Homo sapiens: one gene and its partners. The protein of the gene in region 4 interacts with the protein of the main gene of each other region in a pairwise test. Each region holds a gene or a part of one and is shown on either strand. Other genes may lie near its edges. The genes, in order: HSD17B13, CLRN1, MFF and CLDN19.

The links.
Region 1: the proteins of CLDN19 (region 4) and HSD17B13 interact in binary tests that used the Homo sapiens proteins (3 or more experiments, as listed by UniProt).
Region 2: the proteins of CLDN19 (region 4) and CLRN1 interact in binary tests that used the Homo sapiens proteins (3 or more experiments, as listed by UniProt).
Region 3: the proteins of CLDN19 (region 4) and MFF interact in binary tests that used the Homo sapiens proteins (3 or more experiments, as listed by UniProt).

Annotation. Positions count from the first base shown.
Region 1 is NC_000004.12:87,303,294-87,305,926, reverse strand, and holds the end of HSD17B13 (17-beta-hydroxysteroid dehydrogenase 13 isoform A precursor), read left to right. Parts: intron 1-618; coding exon 619-709; 3' UTR 710-2,133; downstream 2,134-2,633. UniProt on the Homo sapiens protein: Plays a pivotal role in hepatic lipid metabolism. In vitro, it catalyzes the oxidation of a variety of lipid substrates, including 17beta-estradiol, retinol, retinal, and leukotriene B4.
Region 2 is NC_000003.12:150,969,711-150,976,862, reverse strand, and holds the start of CLRN1 (clarin-1), read left to right. Parts: upstream 1-4,135; 5' UTR 4,136-4,154; coding exon 4,155-4,407; intron 4,408-7,152. UniProt on the Homo sapiens protein: May have a role in the excitatory ribbon synapse junctions between hair cells and cochlear ganglion cells and presumably also in analogous synapses within the retina.
Region 3 is NC_000002.12:227,320,571-227,328,250, reverse strand, and holds the start of MFF (mitochondrial fission factor), read right to left. Parts: upstream 3,001-7,680; 5' UTR 2,824-3,000; exon of another isoform or gene 2,709-2,823; intron 740-2,708; exon of another isoform or gene 726-739; intron 1-725. UniProt on the Homo sapiens protein: Plays a role in mitochondrial and peroxisomal fission. Promotes the recruitment and association of the fission mediator dynamin-related protein 1 (DNM1L) to the mitochondrial surface.
Region 4 is NC_000001.11:42,732,580-42,737,267, reverse strand, and holds the end of CLDN19 (claudin-19), read left to right. Parts: intron 1-1,237; coding exon 1,238-1,390; coding exon of another isoform or gene 1,391-1,506; exon of another isoform or gene 1,507-2,133; coding exon 2,134-2,182; 3' UTR 2,183-4,175; downstream 4,176-4,688. UniProt on the Homo sapiens protein: Forms paracellular channels: coassembles with CLDN16 into tight junction strands with cation-selective channels through the strands, conveying epithelial permeability in a process known as paracellular tight junction permeability.

The DNA of each region.
Region 1 (2,633 bases), on a different chromosome or scaffold from region 4:
TCCGCTGCAAGACGTTAATAAAGTTACTGTTTTGCAGGCTAGAATGTCTTGATGCTGTAATCAGAACACACTTTTTCCCCTTTCTTCCAGCTTCAAATGCAGATTCATAATTGGGCTGACTTCTAATAACTGCAATGTTTTCTGCCTTGGGCTTGCAGCAGAAGCCTGACAAAATAGTGTTTGTTTAGGCAATAATTTATTTATTTATTTATTGAGATGGAGTTTCATTCTTGTCGCCCAGGCTGGAGTGCAATGGCGTGATCTCGGCTCACTGCAACCTCTGTGTTCAGGCAATAATTTAGACTTTACCTTACTTGTGATTACTATAGCAATTACTATAGCCACAAGGCATAATTTTACTGTCTCATTTCAATTTTATGAATTTGAATGTTTTTACACTTTTCCTAATGAAGTCCACTATGAAGTTATGTCAAAAAAAAAAAAGAAAAAGAAAGATGCACACGTAAAAGAGAGGTGGTTGCAAGAGAAGAAAAGAACGGAGGAAAGTTAAACGCAAACCAGATAACTCTCAGCGTATTCTAAATGACCAAAAACAGAACTCTGTTGTCAAAGATTTTAAATGGAAAATTTTTCAATTTTTTTTTCTTTTTTGTACAGGTTTCTTCCTGAACGCGCCTCAGCGATTTTAAATCGTATGCAGAATATTCAATTTGAAGCAGTGGTTGGCCACAAAATCAAAATGAAATGAATAAATAAGCTCCAGCCAGAGATGTATGCATGATAATGATATGAATAGTTTCGAATCAATGCTGCAAAGCTTTATTTCACATTTTTTCAGTCCTGATAATATTAAAAACATTGGTTTGGCACTAGCAGCAGTCAAACGAACAAGATTAATTACCTGTCTTCCTGTTTCTCAAGAATATTTACGTAGTTTTTCATAGGTCTGTTTTTCCTTTCATGCCTCTTAAAAACTTCTGTGCTTACATAAACATACTTAAAAGGTTTTCTTTAAGATATTTTATTTTTCCATTTAAAGGTGGACAAAAGCTACCTCCCTAAAAGTAAATACAAAGAGAACTTATTTACACAGGGAAGGTTTAAGACTGTTCAAGTAGCATTCCAATCTGTAGCCATGCCACAGAATATCAACAAGAACACAGAATGAGTGCACAGCTAAGAGATCAAGTTTCAGCAGGCAGCTTTATCTCAACCTGGACATATTTTAAGATTCAGCATTTGAAAGATTTCCCTAGCCTCTTCCTTTTTCATTAGCCCAAAACGGTGCAACTCTATTCTGGACTTTATTACTTGATTCTGTCTTCTGTATAACTCTGAAGTCCACCAAAAGTGGACCCTCTATATTTCCTCCCTTTTTATAGTCTTATAAGATACATTATGAAAGGTGACCGACTCTATTTTAAATCTCAGAATTTTAAGTTCTAGCCCCATGATAACCTTTTTCTTTGTAATTTATGCTTTCATATATCCTTGGTCCCAGAGATGTTTAGACAATTTTAGGCTCAAAAATTAAAGCTAACACAGGAAAAGGAACTGTACTGGCTATTACATAAGAAACAATGGACCCAAGAGAAGAAAAGGAAGAAAGAAAGGTTTTTTGGTTTTTGTTTTGTTTTGTTTTGTTTTTTGTTTTTTTGAGATGGAGTCTCACTCTTTCGCCCAGGCTGGAGTGCAGTGGTATGATCTCAGCTCACTGCAAGCTCCACCTCCCGGGTTCACGCCATTCTCCTGCCTCAGCCTCCTGAGTAGCTGGGACTACAGGCGCCCGCCACCACACCCGGCTAATTTTTTGTATTTTTTGTAGAGACGGGGTTTCACCATGTTAGCCAAGATGGTCTCGATCTCCTGACCTCGTGATCCACCTGCCTCGGCCTCCCAAAGTGCTGGGATTACGGGTGTGAGCCACCGTGCCCAGCCTTTTTTTTTTTAATAGAAAAAATAATCCGACTCCCACTACATCAAGACTAATCTTGTTTTGTGTGTTTTTCACATGTATTATAGAATGCTTTTGCATGGACTATCCTCTTGTTTTTATTAAAAACAAATGATTTTTTTAAAAGTCACAAAAACAATTCACTAAAAATAAATATGTCATTGTGCTTTAAAAAAATAACCTCTTGTAGTTATAAAATAAAACGTTTGACTTCTAAACTCTGTCTCTATGAGTGTCCTTCAAGAACCAAGGATGTGGATGGTAACAGCTACATCTGGCAGTTATTAAATGAATCCAGGGGTTTTCTCAACTCTGGTTTCTTTGACAGCAGGAGTGCTGGTTTATCAACTGGAACTTACTGACCCCTTTCTATGTGTGAGATTAAGCACAGTGCTATTGTTTCTAATTTTTTTTCTTAGTCACCGGCAATAATTTTTTTCATAACATTCTTTTAATTTCTTGCCTTATAATCAAGAAATTTATGAGTAAAATGTATTATTTTTAAAGTATGGTTACAAAAATTCAAAAGAGAAACATGGAAAGTAAAAAATAGAAGCTTACCCCCAGCAATCCCATTTCCCAGAGGTCACACTGTCAATGCACAATCTTCCAGTCTTTTACTGATGCATGTTCATGACAAATACATTATATTCTTATTGCATGGGTCGTATCAGTAGTTTCATACCATACATTATGTTCTGTAACTTGCTCTTTTAGC
Region 2 (7,152 bases), on a different chromosome or scaffold from region 4:
CCTTGATCACCCACCCTCCCAGTATAGCAGCTCGATTTTTGTCTTATTTCACACAAGTTGTGTTGAGGCAATGGTTTTTCTTCTTAAAAATGATTTGAGAATCACCTATGCAGCCCAGACCACTCTTTTCATAAATATGTAAAATTAATGCCAGAGAAGGAATTCTTAATTTAGCCATACAGCTGGAAATAGACCCTGGACAGGATCTTCCCATGCCATGCTATACTGTCTCTTATACTTGGCGAACAAACCAGGTGAGAATTTGCATCCCTTTGTAATGGGGCTGCTTTTTTTCTTTTGTTTTCAAATGGTTATAAGGAAAAACTGATGCAGCCAAGTTAGTGTGAGAAGAGGCACAAATGCTACACTGGAAGTGAAAACAGAGTCTGCAATTGTGCTCCTTTCTCTACAGAATCTCTAGTCACTCTGAAGAATTATATCATTATCCAGCACCTGAAAGGGGTCAGAGGAGGGGGAGGCCTAGTTCCATTTTCTTATGTCACCGAATGTATTCCTATTAAGATTGAGAGAAGTAAAGATTTCAGCAGGATACTTGGTGAAAACTTGCTGACATTAATGACTCAAATTCTCAGAGAGACTGCAAGGAAAATGGTGTCATCACTGTCATTCAAGACATTTAAGATGAAATTTCAAAAGAAGGCTGTCAGGCATAATGACTGCCAGGTTCCATTATATCATTCTCAGAGGGTGGATCACACACACTACTACGCAGCCTGTGGGTGGCTGATGCTGAAGTTTGAAAGGAAGCTGCATGGAGAAGAGGTGAGGGGGGCTGCCTCACATGAACAGGATACAGCACCATTGATATTCATATGGTGATTTGGGGGTAAATCTATGAATCGGGGCCTGGTCTTTTGTTGTGGATATGCTGAAACCTAGTGCTGAAAAAATGTAGGAAAGTTTGAGCTGTAAATGGTAGTGCCTATTTATTAATTTGCTATGAGCATATTCCTCTCTAGCGACCCAGATGCTCATGTCTGTGTGCATTCCAGCACTGAGATGCCTGCAAAGCCTAGTTTGTAATCAGTAGATAGCCATGTGAAAAGGAGATAAGGGCAGTGGCTTCCAACCTTGGCTGCACAATGCAATCACCTGGGGTGATTCGACGCTAAGGCCATACTCTAAAATCAAATAAATCTGAATCTCAGGGATGAGGACACAGACATCAGTACTTTTAAAATCTTCTCAAGTGATTCTAATGAGCAGCAAAACTGAGAACCACCGTGTCAAAGCAAAGGGTGAGGTTTTAGGCCTCAAAGGGTGAGTCTCACCCTTTCCACTCAGGGATCTTTTATGTCATAGAGCAGTGGGTTTGATTTGGTTTTGTTTTAAATCAGGAGTAGACATAGGTTTGCCAGTTTCTAAATTTGTCAAATAAAATCATTAAAAATTCAACTACCATTATCTCATTAAAGAAAGAAAATTTCAACAATAAAAATTAGGAAGGGCCTAACTTCAGGATATAAGAGTAACTCAGTATGTTGTATTTATTTTTCCCATGTCTCTACAGACGAGTGAACATGTCGCTACAGACTGATGCAAACTGATGCAACTGATGTGATCTAATTGCTCTCTACACCCATAATCAAGGCTTTCCTCCTTGGACAGCTTTAGATATACTTGGCTGAGTTTGGGTTAATTAAACCGCTGTCCTATGCTAACTATCCTTCTCTTGCCATATCCTTTAGTAGAGGTTATTAATAGTATTGATTAAGTTGTAGGTGATTTCTTCTCCCAGGCTTTGGAAATGTTCTGTCTCTTCCAATTACAGAATATGTTGATTTAGTAAGCTCAGCTCTGCTTAGACATCTTAAACTAAGTTTTCTAGGGTGACTGTGGCACATATATGCCCAAATAACCACTTATCAGGGGCACTGGCACCCCCTTGTTTTGCTAGTGGACCATGATAGCGATTATTCTAAATCCAGTGGTGAATTCATTGGAGGGCCAAATAAACTGAGATGAGTTGCTTATTCTGTGTTCTAGCAATTATTCTAAATCCAGTGGTGAATTCATTGGAAGGCCAAATAAACTGGGATGAGTTGCTTATTCTGTGTTAAGTTATACAAAATAAAAAAGACTTACTAATATTGTAAACTTTATTTTAAGTGCCTCTTTGGAATCTTCTATATGCCCAGTTCTTCTGTGGCCATGTTTTATATTGCCCCTCTTCTCCCCGAAGGTACATTGGCATTCTAGAATGAGTTCTATACTTAGTTGTCTGTCCTTAACGAGACTGGCTGTTGCGACTCCTAGGAGAGGCGAGCTGTGAGAGAAGTTTACCAGTACTCCGAGTCTATACCTCAAAGTTCCCTTCGAAGTGTGCATAATGTAGAGACTCATTTATGCTGAAAATGGTGTGAAATAAGTCTTCATTTATTAATTTCCTCTAAGCTGTCATGCTTAAAGGTGGATCAAAAGAATAGAAGCTAGCATACACATGTGCTTTTGGCCAACTGAAAAAGTTCTATTTACTGATGTCTGTGTTCTTCAAACACTCAATATGTGTAACTAATAATGGGCTAGTCTGCCCCTGTTACTCCTAGACGAACCCAACCCAAACTGAAATGTTTGCCATCTTTTCAAGGTCAGGGGCTTTGCTTGGAATAGAACATCAACCTCAGAAGTAGAAGACCTGGATTTGAATCCCAGCTCCACTACTCTCTTCAGCAAGTTGCTTAAACTCTCTGAGCCTCAATTCCCTTATATATAAGATACGAATAATTGCTTTTTCTTCTTCTTTCTTCTTTCTTATTCTTCTTCCTTCTTCCTTTCTCCTCCTCCTCCTCCTTCTTCTCCTCCTCCCTCCTCTTCTTCTTCCTCTTCTTCATTACTTTATATGCTAATTATGAGAATTACATATGATAATTTAGGTAGAATACTTCACAAGTTGCCAGACATAAGTTCTTACTAAACATTAACTTTGTAGGTCAGAGCTCAGGACAATAACATGGCATATAATAAACATTCACTAGACACTTCACACACACACACACACACACACACACACACACACACACACACACAGTCCTGTGTCTGTAGAAGGAGGAATCTCATTGGAAATGCAAAGTTAAAAAGCTGTTACTGAATTCTGAACTTTAGTTTCCAGGTCTTGACCGTTTAACCAGACCTACCTGCTGCTTAATCTTTGCTCATAACTGTCTCTAGTCTCCCAAACAGATTACCTTTGCTGAGACCTGTGCATTTTTATGATGAATCCATAGAGTCACCTATCTGACCACCATCCCTCTTTCCATCAATATGCCCTTATCTTTACAGATCCTGGTATTCCTTGGACCCAGAAACACATTCCCTTGCTATTATCCTAAAGCAGCTAAGCCTGTTAAAGGAAAGCATTTAGAAATCTAGATATCTGCTCCTGCATTTTCATATTTCTGTATGCCAAGAAAAATTTGAATCAAATTCTCTATTGATACATTAGGTATAAACCATGGATCTGGGAGAAATTAAGTTGGAAGGACAAGGACCCATGGTTGATCCAGAGCACTTAATATTCGTGTAGGACCAAATTCTGTTTAATATTTTTATCCTGCTGTAATTAAAAATTTTTGACATCAACTATCAATACAGGTACATATGTTCTCCCTACCTCTGCTAAAGCTCCTTCCCCCACCACCAAAAACAATAACAAACAAAAAACAAAAATAAAAACATCGATAAGTGAACTTCTCAAGTTGCTGAAAATGTACCATCAGATTCAAGCCTGTTTCTGAAAGTTTCAACTCACCCAATCAGACAAAAGGCTGAGGAAGGGAAACATTTATCAAGTTACACTGAGGACTCCATCTGTTATCTTCGACCTTTGTTACCAAGTGACACAGAGGAGATACTTGAAGGCAGTTTGAAAGACTTGTTTTACAGATTCTTAGTCCAAAGATTTCCAATTAGGGAGAAGAAGCAGCAGAAAAGGAGAAAAGCCAAGTATGAGTGATGATGAGGCCTTCATCTACTGACATTTAACCTGGCGAGAACCGTCGATGGTGAAGTTGCCTTTTCAGCTGGGAGCTGTCCGTTCAGCTTCCGTAATAAATGCAGTCAAAGAGGCAGTCCCTTCCCATTGCTCACAAAGGTCTTGTTTTTGAACCTCGCCCTCACAGAAGCCGTTTCTCATCATGCCAAGCCAACAGAAGAAAATCATTTTTTGCATGGCCGGAGTGTTCAGTTTTGCATGTGCCCTCGGAGTTGTGACAGCCTTGGGGACACCGTTGTGGATCAAAGCCACTGTCCTCTGCAAAACGGGAGCTCTGCTCGTCAATGCCTCAGGGCAGGAGCTGGACAAGTTTATGGGTGAAATGCAGTACGGGCTTTTCCACGGAGAGGGTGTGAGGCAGTGTGGGTTGGGAGCAAGGCCCTTTCGGTTCTCATGTAAGTAGCAATTGCATTTGAGTTATTTAATGCTTTAGGCAGACTCTTCCCAGTGTTGCGAGGAATTATATTTGAGAATTTTGCCGTGTTTACTGCAGGACTTTTTAAATCGGTGTGAACCATATGAAAAACCTATGACTCTGAGCAATTTCTTCTTCCTAGTTTTTATTATTTTATACTTGCTTTTTATTATAATATAGAGTTAATTCATTGTTACATAATTAAGGTTTTTGGAAATATTGGCAATTAAGATGCTTAAGTATTAATATTTATGTAAAAAATTATGGAGTCTTTTTAAAAAAGTAAACTTGGGGAAATAGGAAAGCTGTAAAGAATGATCTTTATGCTTTTTGTTCTTTATAAAAAGAACCAAGGTCATGGGCTCCGTATTTAACCAGGTTGCCACCTTTCTCATGATTTTGTTTCCTGCTCCCCACTCCCTCCCATTATTCCTGCTAAGACCTTTCCTGCTGCTAAATATTCAGTTTTCATTTTTAACTAATTTGGAATCATTTGGCTATAGAAATTTAAAATGATCTGCTGTGCTAACTGGGAAAGAAATGGATGCCTATTTAGTATAGAACATTTTAAACTGATTGACCTGCAAATCATGTAGAGAATATGAGAGAGATTTTCTTGTTGTGATTTTTGTGAAATGGAAGTGTAATCCACAGTATTTATAACCTGTTTATCTTAAGAAGAGAATTTTTAAAAATTACCATGTGAATAGGCAACTCATTAAATGAAAATTAATAGGAAGTCATTTGTTATATCTCTTACAACACACATTCAGAAGTTATTATTATTTCAGAAGGGCTGGTTTGGAACAACCTTATGAAGACACAGTCAGTAAATTACTGCATAAATCACTCTTCAGGAAAGGAGGTTACCAACTGAAGCATTTAAAATGAATTATTATTTTGCCCAGGTTTTTTTTTTCTTTCTAGTATAGGTAGAAGGCTAAATTAATTGAATTTATTATTAACATATGCAGTGCCTAATTAAATTTCAGTGCTGGTCTATTTATATTTCTGCAACATTCCTTATATCTTCTTAGCAGTCATTGGACACCAACCTTCAGCTCACATAGGTTACTAAGTGATATGAATTTTCATAGGGCTCCAGAAAATTTCCAAGAATTGGTTGTTAGCTTTTTAATTGATGAAGTGGATACCAGTTCTTTTCACTGAATGGCTTTTATTCATTAAGGTAATGGGGCTGTTAGAGTTGCTTAGTTTTCCTGGGGAAGGGGAAGGAAGAAAACAAAGCAGAATGTCATGTGATATGCAACTGTATTAAAAAACCGAAAAGGAAAAAAGTTGAGAGAGATGATTTAACCGTGAGTCACCGGCAGCCAAAGCGTGAGTAAAGCTTCTCACAGATGAATTTAGACAAAAGCGGAGAAGGTACTGGTGAATTTTCTGGAGCCTTTACATTTTCTACAGTGAAATGGAGATAAACTTTACTCATGCCATAGGACATGTTTCAAAACAATAATAAGATGTTTTCTGAACACTTACTACATACTAAGCACTTTATATGCTTTGTCTCATTTAATCCTTACACAGCCACATTCTTCTGGGGTTTAGCGAATGATTTTTGTGGTTGTGTCCTATGCTTGTCCTGTCTAAGGATGAAGTTGTTCTAATTGGGTGCCCCTCCTTTTGCTTTCTGTGAGGACTTGCAGAACTGGTGGGGTTTAAACAGTACCCTCACTTATCTCACAGAATTTCATTAGCTCCCAGATACCCCTGACATTCTCCCCCTAGCCTAGTGAAGAAAATCTTCCATTTACTTGTTCATTCTGCAGTGACAGCTCCATCAATATACAATAGACTATACATATTAAGTGTACTGTATATACTATACATGTTAAAAATCTCATTCATTTTGGTGAGGCCCAGCTAAGAATACTTACAGTAGAGCTTTTTTTTTTTTCCTAAGCATAAAAGTATCTTTTTCAATGCAGCATGAGACAGAGTTGGGAAAACCAAAATAAATAGATCCAATGGACTCCCCAAAGAGGATAATATTCATTTAAATAAACACCCCTCTCAGTGTTAAAACTTTCTAATCAACATGCCTTTGGGACACATTGCACCCTCAAAGTTTACACTCCCATTGCAACGCAGCTTTGTGGTTCACGTTTTTTCCATTCAGAATGTCATTACCCTGTCAATGATGTTTCATCAACGTTTGCTTGGATGAGAATCCTCTGATATTCTTCCTGATAGAAATGTATAAGCCCTGTTCATATAAATGAATAAAAGATCTAACCTTACTTTCTCAGTAGTGGCTTCCTTGGAGCAAAAAGCAGGGACCTCCAGAGAGCTCAGGTGGATGACTCTTTTCTGTTTCTTCCAGAGCTCAACTTACAATTAGTGCACAATTCATTTCCCAGAATGTCTTCTTTCTTATTGTGCCTTTAGAAAGTTATTAAGCAAACATTTGAATTCACAGAATCTTACCAGTGTAAGAGGAATGGAAAAGGTAACTTATCAAGGTAACAATCACTTCGTGGCCAGTTTTTTCGGCTCACTGCAACTACCCCTCCTGGGTTCAAGCGATTCTCCTGCCTCAGCCTCCCAAGTAGCTGGGACTACAGGCGTGCACCACCATGCCCAGCTAATTTTTTTTTTGTATTTTTAGTAAAGACAGGGTTTCACCATGTGGGCCAGGCTGGTCTCATGGCAAGTTTTCTTTGTGTTGTCATGTTATTATCAATTAATAGGAATTTATATTTCA
Region 3 (7,680 bases), on a different chromosome or scaffold from region 4:
TACAGGCATATGCCACCACACCCAGCTAATTTTTGTATTTTTTGTTGAGACAGGGTCTTATTATGTTGTTCAGGCTGATCTCAAACTCCTAGGCTCAAGAAATCCTCTGGCCTTCGTCTCCTAAAGTGCTGGGACTACAGGTGTGAGCCACCGTGCCCGGCCTGTTTAAATTTTCATTCACTTACGATGTTAAAATTTTGAACTAGTAATGCATGTACTCGGTACAAAGTACGCAAGCTATACAGAGAAAAGGAAGTGTCCCACTTTCAATCCTATCCTTAACCACCCAGGTTCCCACAGGCAACCTTTATAATCAATTTTTGTGCATCATTCCAGATGAGATGCTCTTCTAATACTTGCGTGTATCTCAAGCATAGCAAAAGCTCATATTCAGAACTAACACTGAAAAAAGCTACCTCAAAAAGATTATAGCCTTTGGCCATTATAAATTGAAGTTTTATAATAATAAACGAGAACCAAGTGGCTAGAACCTCAGTATCTCCTTGAAATGTGCTTTCTCTGCATTCCATTCATTGCATTTCAGTCTTACGAACTTTCTAGTAGTACATCTCATAGGTCTCACTACTATATTCCATTCTATAGCAACATCTTTTCTTACGAGAATATCTGAGTTTGTAAAAAACTAGTGACTTAGAAAATAAAGGTGGATGCTGAAATGCCAACTTCTGGAAAAAGCCAAGTTCTCCTGTAGCTGAACTACTTACATTTAAAAAGTAACTGGATTTCTACTAAGATTTAACACTGTATTATCCCAATTATTGGGTTTTCTGCTTAAAACCAATCAAAATCTGATTTTTTTTCTCCCTCGTTAGACTGTGGCATTTCTGATAATATCTTTTGGCAATAAATAAACGTCTCATTTGGTGTTGATATGTTAATTCCAGAAGTTTTGTACCTTAGAATCCAGTAGGCAACCAGTACGTGATTCTGTTACATAACAAACGAGGCAAAATCTCTCTTAGAATCACAGATGATTTCATATTTCTACTTTCTAAGCCCAGTGGTTCCCAAACACCAGTAACTAACTTGCCAACTTCATGGGTTTTTTTTTTCCCATATTCACAGAGTACATTAACTTTTTGCTACAGTTAATTTTTTTAACTCGACTTTTTAAAATCAAAAAAGTATTGTAAAAGAAAATTTTGTATCACTACCTTAAACCATGGCTGTACATATATAAATACAGATTGCAAAAACATCCTATTACAAAAAAATCCTCATCCACGTACCGCCTAGAGTCAAGTCACATGCCACTAGCGGAAAGTGTACCAATTTTGGGACACAATGATTCCAGCCCAACTTTCTCATTTTCTGTATTAGAACACTGGAACCCAGAAAGCCTCGGAAGTCACCGAAACAACTTGAGTCAAACTGACTGTGGTTGCAAATGTTTATGTACTTTTCAAAAACAAACATACAAACAAACAAAAACAAACCAAAAAAAACCCTCCAGTTGTTTATTACCTACTGCGTGGACCTAGTTCACACAGATGGGCCACTCTGCACACCCTGTTTCAGTTCTTTTTCAAAGAAACTATATTTAAAAAGTCACTGCAAACTTTTAAAACTATATATTAATGAACTTTAAAATAAGGTTATGAACCCACAGAAAAGTTTCAATACCAGAAGAGAGGAGAGCGAAGACTAAACTTTGCAATTCTGAAAGGAGGCAGCTCTATCAGACAGGAAGGGAGAGAACACAATTTCCTTTTGGAAAAAATGGCAAAACCAATATACAAGCCTTTGAAACCAAAAGATAGAAGGTCCCCCAAGCAATTTAATTGCATGGGAAAAGACTACTAAGTATAACTAAATCGTCCTAATTTTCCTAAGGGTTTTTCTTTTGGGCTCTCATTAGCCAACGGAATTGAGGCAGAAAAAATGTTTTTCACGCAGGGAGACAAAACATTTGTGATCATCTTAAGTCTCTCGGTGGATGAGAGGCCTGAATACAAATGGTTCTATATTTGGGCAGAAGGGCCAGAAACCTTTTTTTTTTTTTTCCCCTTTAATGTTCTCCAATGAAAACATGTCACTTTTGAAAGGGTGCTCTTCCCTCGAGAATGCCCTTTGCTTCTAACTTTGTGGGAGGTAGACAGGGGTGTTCTTTTACGATAGTAATAGTAGCACACGTCCTGCAGAGGAAGGTCAGAAGCTCGGCGGAACAGGAACCGCAGCTTTCCTCCGGCTTCCCAGCTCCTGGAAGGAAACCCGAGAGCAACTGCCTGCAGCCACATCTGCGAGCAGGGATGCTCACAGACGGACAGGGTGGCCCGCAGCCACCCGCGATGCCACAACCTGGGCTTCCAACAAGGCCCTTCTTTTCCAAAATGTACTTGCCACAAAACAACACAAAAACCTCCTTTTAAACAAGGCAGGTTTAAGGTCAGCCTGTAAGGTGTCAGGGCCTTGGCAGGGAAGGATGAGTGAAGACCTGCAAAGCCCGGCGTTCACGCTCACGGGACTCCCGCTGCTTCCCAAACCCCTATTTTCCAGTCGGAAAAGTCCGGGTTAATACACAAAAGGAGACGCCGAACCACACAAGGTGAAGAGGTTCGCCCAAAAACACCTGCAGAAGACGCTCCTCTCCCTCGCTCTCCTCGGGGACTCAAGGTCCCGGGGAGGAGGAAAGACCAGGGTTGAAGGCAAGAGGCCCGGGGACGGGACTCGGGTCAGGGAGACACTACCGGGGGGGCCGGGGCCACCGCGGGTCCCTGTTGGCCGGAGGGTCTCGGCGGCGGCGATAGGCCTGGCAGCCAGCTCGGGCGGCAGGTCGCGGGTCGGGAAGACGTCAACACTCACCCCTGGGCCCACAGGAGGGTCCCGGCGAGGACCCCCGCCCTCTGGCTCCCGGGGCGCTCGAGTGGGCGCTCTCAGAGGTGGTTGGCTGAGAGCACGGAGGCGCCCAGGGACAGCACCGGCGGAGCGGCCCGCAGAGGGCCAGGGCAGAAGCGCGAAAGGCGCGGGCTGGCCCCTTCTGGGAGCCGTAGCGGAAGAGTGTTCGTGGTCATGTGACGCGGAAAAGGGCGGACGCGTGGCCCACGCACTGGAACGGCTCCACGGTAAGCGATGCGCAGACATCTTTGTTGTGGGCGAAACGAGGTGACCGCAGGTGACTCCTCTTGCGGTTAAGTTTAATTCACACTTCGGCTTTATTAGATTTTGTAATCTTTAAGAACTTGGTGTTTGCAAGGTAAACCTTTGGTAGCCAATTAAAACAACTTTTTCAGGACCATCTGGCATGAAAATTTCTATGCTGTGAGGCTTAGGAATTCTCATATGTAAATCAGCTCCGCCAGTGATTCCATGAGTTCCAATTTGATACTTCTTAAGCCCTCGGTTGATCAGACCTTGTCTTCCATGAGAATTCCGGGAGAGGGGAAGTTAAGTTTCACAGTAGTTGGCGGCATCGTTTAGCTTTGGGAGAGCACTCTCTGCTTCTGAACACCCAACCACAGACTCTTCCCCCCAGGAAGCCCTTGCTTAGAGCGGGGGAAAAATGGTACAGTGCTTGTCAGTATGGGAATGTACTGAGGCCAAATAATGTGATATTTTATATGCCTTGGTTTTCACAAACACCTAAAGGTGTACACATGACTTATGTACTCCCCTACGATCTAATTGATATTCTAGAGATGTTACCATTCTTCAAAATGATTTGGGAAGCCCTCTGAATTGCGTTCTTGGGCTTCTTAACACTGGTGTAGGGAAAGTGAAAATATTTCCTCTCCCCTCTTGGGGTCTTGGCTGGGCCTAAGAATTAAACTGATGAGGAAAAGAGTCAAACTCTAAAATATTTGAAGAGATTTATTCTGAGCCAAATGTGAGTGACCATGGCCCGTGACAGAGCCCTCAGGAGGTCCTGAGAACATGTGTCCAAGGTGGTTGGGGCGCAGCTTGGTTTTATGTATTTTAGGGAGGCATGAGACATCAATCAAATAAATTTAAGAACTACATTGGTTTGGTTCAGAAAGGTGGGACAACTCAAAGCAGGGGCTTCCAAGGCTGTAGGTAAATTTAAACATTTTCTGGTTGACAGTTGAAGACCTGGGACCCATAGAAAGGAAATGTTGAGGTTAAAATAAAAGATTGTGGAGACCAAGGTTCTTTTGAAGTCTTATAGTGGCTGCCCTTAGAGACAATGGATGACAAATGTTTCCTATTCAGATCTTTAAAAGGTGCTAGATTCTTACGTAATCTCTTTAGGATTGGGAGGACCTGGAAGAAAATGATCTAGCTATGTTAATAGAAATTCTATGTAGATGCAGATTTTCCCCCAACAAAGGACAGCTTTGCAGAGCCGTTTCAAGATATGTCAAAAACTAAAAAAAATGTTTTGCGGTAAAATATTTTGATTTTGTTTCTTGTCTCGTTATGCCAGTGTCAGATTGGAAAGTAAGTCACAATATATAGGGTTAAATAAAACCCATCTGATGAGAATTTATGGATTGTAGGGCATGAATCCCTAGGCCCCTTAGATAGGAATTTGAGCAAGATTAAAAAAAAAATCAGAGCTTAGTCTCCACTGACGTAAAATAGAGACATAAAACATAACAGGAGGAAAGCATACAAATTTTATTTAGTAATTTTTACATTTACATTGGAGCCTTCCCTAGAAAAATGGAGACCCAAATTAACAGTTGGACCCTAAGTGCTTTTGAGTCTCCATTTTTCTAGGGAAGGCTAAAAAGAGTAGTAAATTGTGAAAATGTGAGAAAACAAACAGATTTGGGTTAGTGCAGTTAATGCAGAAGTGACTAAGAAGATAAAGGTTGTTGTAACAAAGTGGAAATGAAAATCGGTAAGTTTGTGCAGATACAGCTCAGCTTTGACTCCATGTCTCTGGTGTTGAGAACATCTCCCTTCCTCCTTATACAGGGAGGGCACCTTTCATACGGAAGTTTTATCTCCTGCTTTCAGGAAGGAAAAAGGAAAGCCACAGTGCTCTTTTTGCATTTTTTTTTTAAGTGCCTTTGACTCGAAAATAATCTTTATGCCAAAGTGCCATATTTTGGGTTGGCATATCCTACTATTGACAGAGCAGAAGCACTGCCATTTTAAAGTGCCCCTTGATCAAAAACCACCTAAATCCAACCCAGAGGGCATCAGCCTAATGGCTGTCAGCATGACCACAAACCACAAATGACACCTCCGACCAGAAACATTCTAACTCTAAGATAAACCCCTCTCCCACCAGACACATGCCAGCCCCAAGATAACCTTCCCTCTGACCGAGCGATGTCAGCCCCAAGATAACCTTCCCTCTGACCGGAGCGATGTCAGCCCCAAGATAACCCCTCCCCTCCAACCAGAGACATTCCAACCCTGTAATAAACTTCTCCTCCAAGCAGAAATATTCCAAGCCTGTGATAAGCTCTCTCACCCTAAACCCTTAAATACTCTTAGTCTGTAAGAGAGAGTGCTCCTGACCAAAATTGGCCAGAAGCCCCTCTCAGGTTTATTCTCTAAAATAAACCTATCCTTGATTGTTGAGCCACTTTTTGTGTTTCTCTCTTCTTTCTTTAACTCTTAACAACTACCCTACAGAGACAAATAAGCCTTTAAGAATAGATTGATTTTTAGGAATAATAAGTCATTCCAAGTCAATCTTTTGTGGGAAGATAGAGATCAAGTTGGGAGATCATGCATTAGGTTGGTTCTGAGGACTAAGCTCTGATTTTTTTATCTTGCTCAAATTCCTATCTAAGGGGTTTGGGGAGTCATGTTCTCCAAACCATAAATGCACATCAGATGGGTTTTATTTAACCGTGTATATCATGACTTACTTTCCAATCTGACTCTGGCATAATAAGGAAGAAAATAAAAATATTTTACCCAAAAATATCTTTCCTTGCCCTACCTTGAAATTGTCCTGCAAAGTCTCTTATGGGAAAAATCCACATTCTGTAGAGAATCTGCTTTCCCCTTTGTTTTCCTTCCTTCTGTGTCCGGAATTGGTGGGTTCTTGGTCTCGCCGACTTCAAGAATGAAGCTGCGAATACTTGCGGTGAGTCTTACAGTTCTTAAAGATGGTGTGTCATGTGTCCGGAGTTTGTTTCTTCAGATGTTCAGATGTGTCCGGAGTTTCTTCCTTCTGGTGGGCTCATGGTCTTGCTGGCTTCAGGAGTGGAGCTGCAGACCTTTGCGGTGACTGTTACAGCTCTTAAAGGCAGCACATCTGGAGTTGTTCATTCCTCCTGTCCAGAGTTATTTGTCCCTCCTGGTGGGTTTGTGGTCTTGCTGGCTTCAGGAGTGAAGCTGCAGACCTTCGCGGTGAGTGTTACAGCTCATAAAGGCAGCGTGGACCCAAAGAGTGAGCAGCAGCAAGATTTATTGCAAAGAGCAAAAGAACAAAGCTTCTACAACATGAAAGGGGACCCCAGCAGGTTGCTGCTGCTGGCCCAGTCAGCCTGCTTTTATTCCTTTATCTGGCCCCCACCCACATCCTGCTGATTGGTCCATTTTACAGAGAGCTGATTGGTCCATTTTACAGAAAGCTGATTGGTCCATTTTGACAGGGTGCTGATTGGTGCATTTACAATCCCTGAGCTAGACACAGAGTGCTGATTGGTGCATTTACAATCCTCCAGCTAGACATAAAAGTTCTCCAAGTCCCCACCAGATTACTAGACACAGAGCACTGATTGTTGCGTTTACAAACATTTAGCTAGACAGAGAGTGCTGATTGATGCATTTACAATCCTCTAGCTAGACATAAAAGTTCTCCAAGTCCCCACTAGATTAGCTAGACACAGAGCACTGATTGGTATGTTTACAAACCTTTAGCTAGAGACAGAGTGCTGATTGATGCATCTACAATCGTCTAGCTAGACATAAAAGTTCTCCAAGTCCCCACTGGATTAGCTAGACACAGAGCACTGATTGGTGCGTTTACAAACCTTTAGCTACACACAGAGCACTGATTGGTGTGTTTACAAACCTTGAGCTAGACACAGAGTGCTGATTGGTGCATTTACAATCCTCTAGCTAGACGTAAAAGTTCTCCAAGTCCCCACCAGATTAGCTAGATACAGAGTGCTGATTGGTGCATCCACAAACCCCGACCTAGACACAGAGTGCTGATTGGTGCATATACAATCTTCCAGCTAGACATAAAAGTTCTCCAAGACCCCACCTGACTCTAGAGTCCAGTTGGCTTTGCCTAGTGGATCCTGTGCTGGGGCTGTGGGCAGAGCTGCCCTCCAGTCCCGTGCTGCGCACATGCACACCTCAGCTCTTGTGCGGTCGATGGGACCAGGCGCCGTGGAGCAGGGGGCGGTGCCCATCAGGGAGGCTCAGGCTGTGAGGGAGCCCATGGTGGGGGTGGCTCGGGCATGGTGAGCTGCAGGTCCTGAGCCCTGCCCCGTGGGGAGGTGGCTGAGGCCCGGTGAGAATCCAAGCGTGGCGCAGGTGGGCTGGTAGTGCTGGGGGACCCGGCGCACCCTCTGCAGCTGCTGGCCTGAGTGCTAAGCCCCTCACTGCCTGGGGCCAGCGGTGCTGGCCGGCCACTTTGAGCGTGGGGCCTGCCAAGCCCGCACCCACACGGAACGCGTGCTGGCCTGCGAGCACTGCACACAGCCCTGGTTCCTGCCTGCGCCTCTCCCCCCACACCTCCCTGCAAGCTGAGAGAGCCGGCTCTGGCCTCGACCAGCCCAAAGA
Region 4 (4,688 bases):
GGTCTGAGCAGAGAGTTTGGGGCAACAGGGAGGGAGCAGTGGAAAGCAGGCTGATATTCAGGAGATAACCAGGACTTGTAAGACTGTGGGCATGGGAACTGAAGGGGATGCTCTGCAAAGGGCCTGGGCCCACCTTGGCTCCTCCCTCACTTCTCAGCCTAGCCAGGAGCAGAGAATGGGACAGTCTTAACCCTAGACATCCCAATGGGCTTTGGGCCTTGGGGTGGAGAGAGGATGAGAAAAGATGTCTGGGCTTTTGCAATCGGGAGGGATGCCTGGAGGAGGCAGAGGTGTTGAGAGGCAAGGGGAGGGAGGAGATCTCAGGTACAAGGTTTGTTCCCTGGGTGGTGGCTGCAGCCACAAAGTCTGCCAAGCAAGGTCCAGCTCAGGCATGTCAGGATAGGACTCGGCCCCCGATCCCTTCAACAGTCCCCAATGCCACTTGGGCTGCCAGGCCCTGTGCTGGGTCCTGGGGACACTGATGGCTCTGTCTGCCCTCAAGGGGCTTCCCAGGGAGCCGGACAAGCAAGGGGCTGAGGCCTCCTGGAGAAAGCATGGTAGTGGAGTCGGCGCAAGGGGCGGGGTGAACACAGAGGATGTCAAGGAAAGACCCCACGAAGAGGTGGCATCTGAACTGGGCTCTGAAGGCAGAGAAGGAACAGGGGAGGCACAGGAGTGGTGGGCTGGGGGGCTTGGTGCCCCAGCTGGGGGTGCCTTGTGCAAAGGCACCAAGGCAGTGAGAACCAGGAGCAGGGCTGGCCTGGCCAGCAGGGTCTGGGTGTGGAGAGCCCAGAGTGCCAGGTGGAAGGGTCTGGCCTTCTCCAGAGGGCAGCGGGAGCAGTCTTGGCTGGGAGTTCTGTGGGCCAGAATGTGACTGGGAAAAAACATGGCAGGGATTGCCCCACTCCTCCCGTGCAGACCTCTCAGGCCCTCCCATGCCCCCTCCACTGGCCAGATCAGGAAATGAGCCCAAGGTTGCTCAGAGCAGGAGCTGGAGGCCCAGCCTCTAGCCTTCACGCCTACCCCAGGCCGGGTCACCCTGTGTGGTGTTGATATTCTGGGCTGGGGGGGAGGGAGAAAGGAAGAGCATTCACCTCAATTTATCTGGAGATATGGAAGAGGTTGTGAGGCTCCAGCCTCCAGCTCCACACACTCTGCCCTTCCTCTGCCAGGGCAGGGACTGGGAACAACCTGAGACGGCAGCCACACCTGATGCCACTCTCCCTACCCCTTGCAGGTATGAATTTGGCCCAGCCCTGTTCGTGGGCTGGGCCTCAGCTGGCCTGGCCGTGCTGGGCGGCTCCTTCCTCTGCTGCACATGCCCGGAGCCAGAGAGACCCAACAGCAGCCCACAGCCCTATCGGCCTGGACCCTCTGCTGCTGCCCGAGAGTACGTCTGAGCTCCGCCTGCCCTGGCCAGCCCCCCACCCAGTGGCCCCCTTGCCCAGCATCCAGCCAGCCTCGCAGCACCCTGGGCAGGGCCACTGGGGCATAGGATGGGCATAGGTGCTCTGAGCAGCTTGTCCTCAACACAAGCACCCACCCTGCAATCTGAGACCCAGATCCTCAGAGAGACACCAGAGGCAGGACCCAGCCCCCAGGCATACACACAGATGCAGGTCCAGGCACGGTCTTGTCTGCACAGCCTGGTGGGCACCAGCATGCATCCCTGGAGACAGGCCCTCAGGCACCAGCCCGGCTGTTTACTCACTGAAGAGCTGCTTGGGTGTCTGCTACGTGCTGGGCCCTAGAGATAGAGCAGTGGCCAAGACGTACCTTAGTACCCAGGTCCTTGGGGTGAGCAGAAACCTTCACCCTCCCCAGTCCCATGGGCTCCTCACAGCAACCCCACAAGGGCAGTGCCGGGATGCTGAACGTTCACACAAGGACAGGGAGGGTCTGAGTTTAGGTCTCAGGTTCTTCCAGTGCGCCCAGGGCTGGGGGCCACCTACACAGATGGTGAGGTCGGACCATGGCGCCCCTGCCCCCGGGAATGGGCCCCAGGCAGGGCTGCTGTGAGGGCCAAGGTCTGGCCACGCTGGCCAGTACCCATGTCCGGGCCTGAATGCACAGCCCCTGCCCCCGACCCCACAGCTCACTCCACTAACCAGCTCTCTCTCTTTTGACTTTCAGACCAGTTGTTAAATTGCCCGCCTCCGCCAAGGGCCCCCTGGGTGTGTAATGTCCAGTCCCCAGCCAGGCTCTGTCCCCTGCCATACCTAGACTGTGTGTTTCATATTTTTTTGGAAAGAGAAGTGAACATCCAGCCCCAATCATGGTATCATTCGGTCTGTCCTCAGCGTGGCTTGGACGGGGCCTGTGTCAGAGTGGTCAGTGCTGACCCCTGGGGCTCTTGGGCAGAAAGATGAGGAGACAGAGGTCCAGGGTGGGTTACATAGCACATCCAGGGCTAAGCAAGAAATAATTCAGAGGTCCTACCCTCTGTCTAGGGACCCCCCTCCCAAGCCTGGCCTTGGCCTTGGCACAAAGTCCTCCTTGATAGGAGATCCCACTCACTCCTGGAGGCTGCCCCTGAGGCTTGGCCCAGCTCTAGGAGCAGTCCCCAGGGTCAGGGAGCCCCTGGTGTGGAAAGAGGCCCCAAGGTAGTAAACCCTGCCCCTGTTACTGTGCTCCAGAGACCTCCTAAGGGAAGGGACAGTTCCTGGAAGGCCCTCCAGCTGGATGCTGGGGATCAGCGATAGGTGAGGGGACACAGTGTAGGAGCTCCCCATGTAGAAAAGGGAATGTGGGGAGGGCGTTAGGAGCTTGCAGGCATTAGGACTGTCCTGAGCAAGGTCTGCAGCCCCCAGCTCTGCTCACCCCGAATCCTGCCCCTTGTTTCCACACCTACCATTCCTCCTCTCCTGATCCCCAGCATCCAGCTGAGGTCCAAGGTCTTTGTCCTAGAATCAGAGTGGGGAGGGGACAGCCTGGGGCTGCCCAGAGACTGTGGGTGGAGCTGCCTGCTGCACTCAGCAGTGCGGTCAGAGAAGGGCTTTTGGTCTTGAAGTCCAGGTACCATCCCCCCTTAGCATACAGGGGGAAGGGCCTGAGAGGAATGTAAGGAAACCAGCCCAGATCAGTCCCAAGGCCAGAGTCCTTTGTCCTACATCTCCCTGAACCAGAGTGTGCCCTGCCCCTCATGCTCAGACCTCTCCCACCCCAAACCCTCTCCCGGGACTCAGTCTCCCTGGCCACTGCGTATCAGGCTTCTGGGGAAAGCATCCATCACAGAACCTCCCCTTCCCTGCCACGCACCTTCCTTGGCCAGCTCCATTCTGGCCTCCTCCACCACCTGCCTTGTGACCACATCTCCCACCACGTCCCCAGATCTCAAGAACGCAGCTCAGCTTCTCCTTCGAGCTTGACTCTGAGAGGGAAAGTGACGGAAACCAAGTCAGATGAGATGACTGCCATGTACACTGCAGTCAAGGGCAGGGAGGGGAGGAATGACACAAATGGCAGGGAGCTGCTGGGGGACTGACCCCTCGGCGCCTGGCCTGGCCGGTGCTGCACATCCACCGGGGCACAACAGGGACTTGTCCAGCCTCTGGTCAGAGGATGTGGCCACCTGACCCTAAATAGGTTCCCCAGAGTCCTGCCCCTCTAATGAATGAGAACTGCAGGAGTTTCTCCTCTGGGTGCCTGAAGCTATAGTGCAATGGTTCCCAACCCTGCATGCACATTCGAATCACCTGGGGGCACAATGCCTAGGCTCCAACCCCAGACACTCTTATTTCATTGGTCTGGGTGGACCTGGCATCAGAAGTCATGTAGCTCCTCAGGGGACTGTAGTGTGTGGTCAGCACTGAGGGCTCCTCTATGAGGCCTCAAGCCCAGGTGACTCTGTGAGGTCTGCAGAGGGAGAAAAGAACCCACAAGGGAAGAGGTGGAGGTCAGGCACGGTGGCTCACGCTTGTAATCCCAGCACTTTGGGAGGCCGAGGTGGGTAGATACCTGAAGTCAGGAGTTCGAGACTAGCCTGGCCAATATGGTAAAACCCCGTGTCTATTAAAAATACAAAAATTAGCTGGCTGTGGTGGTGGGCACCTGTAATCCCAGCTACTCGGGAGGCTGAGGCAGGAGAATCGCTTGAACTCGGGAGGTGGAGGTTGCAGTCAGCCAAGATCGTGCCACTGCACACCATCCTGGATGACAGAGCAAGACTCCATCACAAAAAAAAAAAAAAAAAAGAAAAGAAAAGAGGTGGGTAGCCGGGCGTGGCGGCTCATGCCTGTAATCCCAACACTTTGGGAGGCTGAGGTGGGTGGGTCACAAGGTCAGGAGTTCGAGACCAGCCTGGCCAACATGGTGAAACCCTGTCTCTATTTTTAAAAAATACAAAAATTAGCCGGCTGTGGTGGTGGGCACCTGTAATCCCAGCTACTCGGGAGGCTGAGGCAGGAGAATTGCTTGAACTCAGGAGGCGAAAGCTGCAGTGAGCCAAGATTGTGCCACTGCACTCCAGCCTGGGCAACAGAGCAAGACTCCATCTCAAAAAAGAAAGAAAGAAAAGAGGTGGGGAGAGGAAGCCCCACTCACTCCTGCCTTTCCCAATACCAGGCTGTTCTGTGACACGCCCACATCTTCCCAATCAATTCCCCTTTTGGCTGAAAAAACGTTGAGTTTGAATCCTGTCCCACACAGCCAGAAGAGCCCTACCTAACAGGATTTGGAACCTGGAAACT